2 separate regions of the Homo sapiens genome follow, and region 2 is linked to region 1. Evidence: fine-mapped expression QTL. A gene starts in region 1. The other region holds a variant in brackets. All regions are shown on one strand. Distances are from middle to middle.

Evidence for each region. PIP is the estimated chance that this variant, and not a neighbour inherited with it, causes the effect.
Region 2: its variant is the best candidate, but not a certain one, in a credible set for the expression of PPARG in whole blood (TOPMed, PIP 0.70).

The regions. Positions count from the first base shown.
Region 1 is chr3:12,287,217-12,290,127 of GRCh38, reverse strand. It overlaps PPARG (peroxisome proliferator activated receptor gamma), which reads right to left and starts at 1,058. Exons shown (of 8, transcript NM_138711.6): 1 at 994-1,058. RefSeq lists an enhancer at 2,497-2,911.
Region 2 is chr3:12,353,579-12,356,489 of GRCh38, reverse strand. The region is part of intron 2 of PPARG (peroxisome proliferator activated receptor gamma); the gene reads right to left. Among named protein-coding and RNA genes, the nearest start is that of PPARG, 66 kb to the right of the region's middle. The variant G/A (reference allele first, on the strand shown) is at 1,755.

The sequences.
Region 1 (2,911 bases):
CAGTTGATTCAAAGATCTCTTAAGACATAATTATTAGCAAGTTAACTATCAAATATCATATAATTTAAATCAGGGAGAAAAATTATGTGAAGTACACAAGAAGACAAAAATGGACAGTTTTGTAATACACTTCACTTTTTGGCTGAGACATTACCTTTAAAGTTTCGTATATTAAAGTGAATATTCAAATACACTTTATTTGGAATCAAATAAAGTGTATTTGATTCCAAAGTGAATCTGATTGAAAATATACTACACAAAACTTACTTTAAAACTTGAACAGAATGTTTTGATATATTACTCCAAATGCTAACTGGTAGCATCTATGAGTGTCTTCTGTCAAACTCCCCTAGGAGTGAAAGGTATTTCTTTAAGAGAAAAGCCACAGTGAATGTCCATGCCAGTCCCTATACCAGAAAGGTTTTCTAAATCATCTAGCACCATCAGTTGGTTCTGTTCTCAGTCAGCAATCGATCACTTAGCAATAGACAGAAAGACTGCCATAAAATACCTGAAACCTGTCGAAGATTTGCCCAGGTCCTTTTAAAGAGTTAAGTTATTCATTGTTCTCTTAATAAATCCAGTTAACAATTTGTCTCACGAATGACAGAAACAGTTGGGGTTAAAATAATGTACTTCAAAATCAGAGGTTTTCCAGGAATAGGTATTATACAACTCAGTTTATCATTGTCTGGTTTTATATCCAAATGATAATTTACACAAATAAACTTTACATTTTGTCCCTAATCTTGCAAGGAAAAGAAGAAAAATTTTAGTTTCTTCATGGCAGACGACTATTTTTGACTTGATTTCTTTTATAACAATGACACTATTTTTACAACCGTTAGCCTATGACCCAAGTGAATTGGATTCTTCTTATAAAACAAGAGCACTGCAAAAAAAAATGATATAAGGATAATACAATAATTTTGCAAATTTCGGACCTATCACCAACACATTCCAACAAAATGCAATGAGAGTGAGCCAACTCACCTAAGGAAAGGGAATTAAGCAGAATGCAGAAATGCAGGCTTCTGGTCACCAGCAGAGGTTAAGGCCCCTTCCTTACCTACCACTGACCTTATATAAAAGCCGCAGCTCGGTTACTCCCCGTTTCTGACTCCTTACCTTAGGCTCCTCCCTAAACACCGAGGCGTAAAGTACCACGACTACACACCCACCTTCCACCAAGGGACCTGAGATTTCTGTTAACCTCTGCTGCCTCTACCCCCCTCAGTTAGGCTCCCAGGAGGAGTGGTCAGCGCCTGGCACTTGCAGGAGCCCACAAAGCAGCGACTTCGCCTTTCCAGCCCCCCGGGGTGCGGCTGGGGGTCCTGGCTGCGCGCTCCATCCGCGGAGGCACGGAGGCACCCAGTCCCCGTCCCCAGCCCCTCCGCCGGGCGTAGGGCCAGCACAACGCGTCAGGGCACAGGGCCTGGCCAGCTACAAGCGCGCCCCTCGCTGAACGGTCCCCCGGTCCCCAAGCGGCGGTCGCCCCTGGGCTCTGGACAGCGAACGGGACCTCCTCCTCAGCAGGGGTGCCGCGCGGCCTCAGGACGGACGCACGCGGATCTTCGCTTCCCCGGGTCCAGACACCCTGCTCCAAAGTTCCCCCGGAGCGGCTCCCGACGCTTGCGCACCTCCGCCGGGGACGCGGAGGTCCCCGTGTCCCCGGCTCCGCGCCCACCCGGCGCTCTCCCGAGGGGGGCTGTCCTGGAAGCCGGGACGCACCGGCTCGCGTCCACTCGAGTCGGCACCGGCCGCGGCTCTCTGTGCCCGCGCCCTCCGCCCCTAGTGCGCGCTCCGGTAGACGCGACCCTCAGCCCGGGTGCCCTCAGCCCAAGACCCCTTCACCCGGTCACCCGTGAGCCGCCCGCCCGCGACCCGTCAGTCCGGGTCCTGCCGGACCATGACCCTGCCTCAGCCCCGGACCCCTCAGCCGAGACCCCCTTCTCCCCAGCTCTCATCCGTCTGGGACCCCGTCAGTTCCCGTTTCCTCGGCCCTAGCCCCCAGACCCTCGGCCCCAGCCCTCCGCGCCCCCTCCCTGAGCACTCCCCGCCCAGCCAGCAGCCGGTTCCCGAGCGCCGCGGGCACCCGTACTCTGACCTGCGGCCACGGCGGCGTGGCGCCCCTCTCCGGTGTCCTCGAGGCCGACCCAAGCGCCCCAGGCGGCGGCTGCGGCTCGGGCTCGGGCTCCGAGTGCGCTGGGCCCCGCCTGCCCGCGGCGGAGCCGGGTCGGGCCGAGCCGGGCCCGGCGCGGGGGCGGGCGCGGGCGCCGGCTGGGGGTGGGGGTGGGGGTGGGGGTGGGGGCGGGGGCGGGGGCGGGGGCGGGGGCGGCGGCGCGCGACTGGGAGGGAGCGGCCCGGGCTCGGCCGCCGCCCGCGCACAGTAGGGCCCACGGCGGGAGCCACCGGCTTTCCCGCGTCCACTCTCTGCCCCGCGGCAGGCTACCTGGTGTCGTTTGCTCCTCGCCACCACCGCTGGGAGGCGGCCCAGAGAGGGTCCCATTTCCGAGGAGGGATCCGAAGTTTAGGGGGATGCCCCCGGCCAGGGCCGGTCTGGGGAGACCGAGGTGTGGGGCTCCCTCTCGGCCAGAGTGGCTTGCCCTTCACACGGCGATCGGCCAGGCCGTCTTCCCAAGATGTTCTTTCCAGTGACATTTTAAAAGAAAATTTAATTAAAGCATATTTCGGGTCCCTTGGTTTTCTCTTCTGATCGGTGGTGCTGCACACTTTCAGAGTTCCTTGCGTTTGTAAGTTACATGGTTATTCACAAGTCACTGACTTTTAATCATTAAAAACATTTCTTAAACTCATTAACAGAATTTCTTAAATTTCTTAGCAGTGTTTCTGACACCGAGGGACTCAGACAACATGGGTGGGGACGGAGTGGGGACGTGAGGCACGAGAA
Region 2 (2,911 bases), 66 kb before region 1:
TTTTAAATCTGCTTTACAGTGTTAACCACAAGTGCCATTCACCACTTGTGGGAACCTCGATCTTGTGTTGGCAATCCCTTGCTCAAATAAAAATTACACGGTTTAAAACACTGTGTACTCAAATAGCCACGTGATCTTGATTCTGAGGTTATAAGAGTTGGATGGCAGTTGCTATCAGTTACATGTGCAATTTCTTCGTCTTTAAATTAGTTACAGGTGCAAAACTGCTTTTACCAAAACAAAAAACAAAAAACAAAAAAAAGACAATCTGGTAAAACTTTACAGAAACTTAATTCCATTCAAACGAGTCTAATTCATTATCACCTATATTTTCACAAATATTCAGCACTAGTAGATGGATATGAAGCATTTACTGGACAACCTCTAGTGCCTATTTTAAGCGTCCAAAGGGAGCTAACAGGACAGAAGCTCTGTATCACTTTTGTTGATCTAAGATAATGAAGAAATTTACTTTGCTCAGATTTCCTCTGTCTCAAGGAATATGTACCTAACGAAAGAGCTATGAAGATTTTAGAAATTTTCCCAGGATTATCCTAACAGAGTTATAAGTGAGAATGCTGACAAAAATAGTAATATATGACAACCTCTGTGAGAGGTATACAATTGTTTTTCATTTAATAACCAATTTTTATACTGCAATTGGCAGATTAAATGGATAGCTGCTGTCAGGGAGCTTTCAAGACAAGTTGTATTCCTTAGAGATAGTAGGGGAAAATAAAATTAAAAATGAAACCCTGTATTTTCTTGTAAACAGCTAATGTAAATGATACTTCTTTGGGGTGTTTCCTATAATTCATAATTTTGGAGGAAAGTATGAGACAAATGACAGTTTTCAGAAAAACAGTGATTTTCAGAGTTTAGAAATCTACAAAATCTGCCAAGTACTGGTGATGAAAAAAGAGGTTAATCAGAGTTAAGTCAGAAAAAAATGATAAAGCTAGAGCCATACTCAGAAAAAAATTAATATGGACAAGAGTAATATTCAAGAAAAAGGTCTTGAATTCTAATTACACGTGAAATTATGGAATTCAGGGGCAGGCTGCGATGGCTCACGCCTGTAATCCCAGCACTTTGGGAGGTCGAGGCGGGAGAATTCCTTGAGCCCAGGAGTTCAAGACCAGCTTGGACAACATGGTGAAATCCTGTCTCTATAAAAATTACAAAAATTTGCTGGGTGTGGTAAGGTACGCCTGTAGTCCCAGCTACTAGTGAGGCTGAGGTGGGAGGATCACCGAAGCCCAGGGAGGTTGAGGCTGTGGTGAAATATGATATCAGGCCTCTGCACTCTAGCCTGGGTGACAGAGTGAGGCTCTGTCTCAAAAAAAAAAGAAGATCTGTGTCAATAACTCAAATCTTTTCTGGACTTCTACTTCAGTGTACGAAAAACATTATAATCCAAGTTTCTCAATGCCTCTGAGAAGAAAACATGTAATTGTCACTTTTATTTAGGCCCAAAGAATAACTTCAATTTCTTCACAGGAAAATATTAATGAAAGTGGGAAATAATTTCATCATTTAAAAAAATTAGACACAAAGATGCTTTCTCTAAGTTTGATCATCTTCTCAAAACACTCACAGGAGATCATGCGGATGCCCCGCTTCATTCATATAACTGCCACTTACTCTTGTGCAATAAAGAGTTCTGCGGTTTTTGTTTTTCCATATCCATAAAGTGTTTAAAATGTAGGTTTCTTTTCTTTTTTTTTTTTTTTTTTGAGATGGAGTCTCGCTCT[G/A]TCGCCCAGGCTGGAGTGCAGTGGCGCAATCTCAGCCTCACTGCAACCTCTGCCTCCTGGGTTCACGCCATTCTCCTACCTCAGCCTCCTGAGTAGCTGGGACTACAGGCGCCCACCACCACGCCTGGCTAATTTTTTGTATTTTTAGTAGAGACAGGGTTTCATCGTGTTAGCCAGGATGGTCTTGACCTCTTGACCTCCTGACCTCGTGATCTGCCCGCCTCGGCCTCCCAAAGTTGTGGGATTACAGATGTGAGCCACTGTACCCAGCCTTTTCTTTTTTTAAACGGAGCCTTCTATTCTAGCCACAAGTGATTAACGCTACAAGGCTAAAGCAATAAATTCCATATAGGGCTTTAGATCTACTTGCACAAGTATTGTGTCATTTAATCCTCCCATTAATCCTGTGTATTCTGTTAATATATGTGGAAACAGAAGGCCAGAGAAGAAAAATGGCGTGCTTAAATTCACACAGCAAATATGTGGCCAACAAAGGACTGGTCCTTATATTCCCTGGTACTACATGGGTCCCTTTAAACTTCTGGAAAGGTGAAAACTTTGGTCAGTTATCTAAATGTTTCTGAATATACAGTTGCCTGGAGATATGTAACCACAGATTAAGTATCCCTCAATAAAAATGGCATGCAATCAATCACTCACTCCTATCTCAGGAGAGACTCGTTTTGAAGGATTGTCTATTGCAGCATTTATCATGTCTCTAAGGCATATTTCCATTGCTCAATCAGCTCCAAAGGACAAGTGTGTCATCATCTTTCAAGGCTCTGGTGCAACGACTTAAAATTGTAGAATTCACACAGGACTAAGTCTGGCACTAAAAGCAGGAGGCATATTCAGCTTGAGCTTGTGGAAGCTTCCCTTCAATCTTGCCAATTTTTACTAGTGGAAATGGTTTCAGAGCCAGCATGAGGTTACTTGGGGTTGCTTGAGGAGCTCTTGATAAAAAGAGAAAGGGGAATAATATAAAGGGGTCACAGCAATGATGGAGCCTTGGAAAAAGTATGGAAGTCCTCTTTGGGCATAGTGGCTAAGTGTAGTCGAGATTTTTAATCTCATGAATATGACCAATCTACCTGGATATCTGAGTCATTCACACTAAATGTGCCACTTTTTCTTAAATAGCAGTACCCAACCATTTG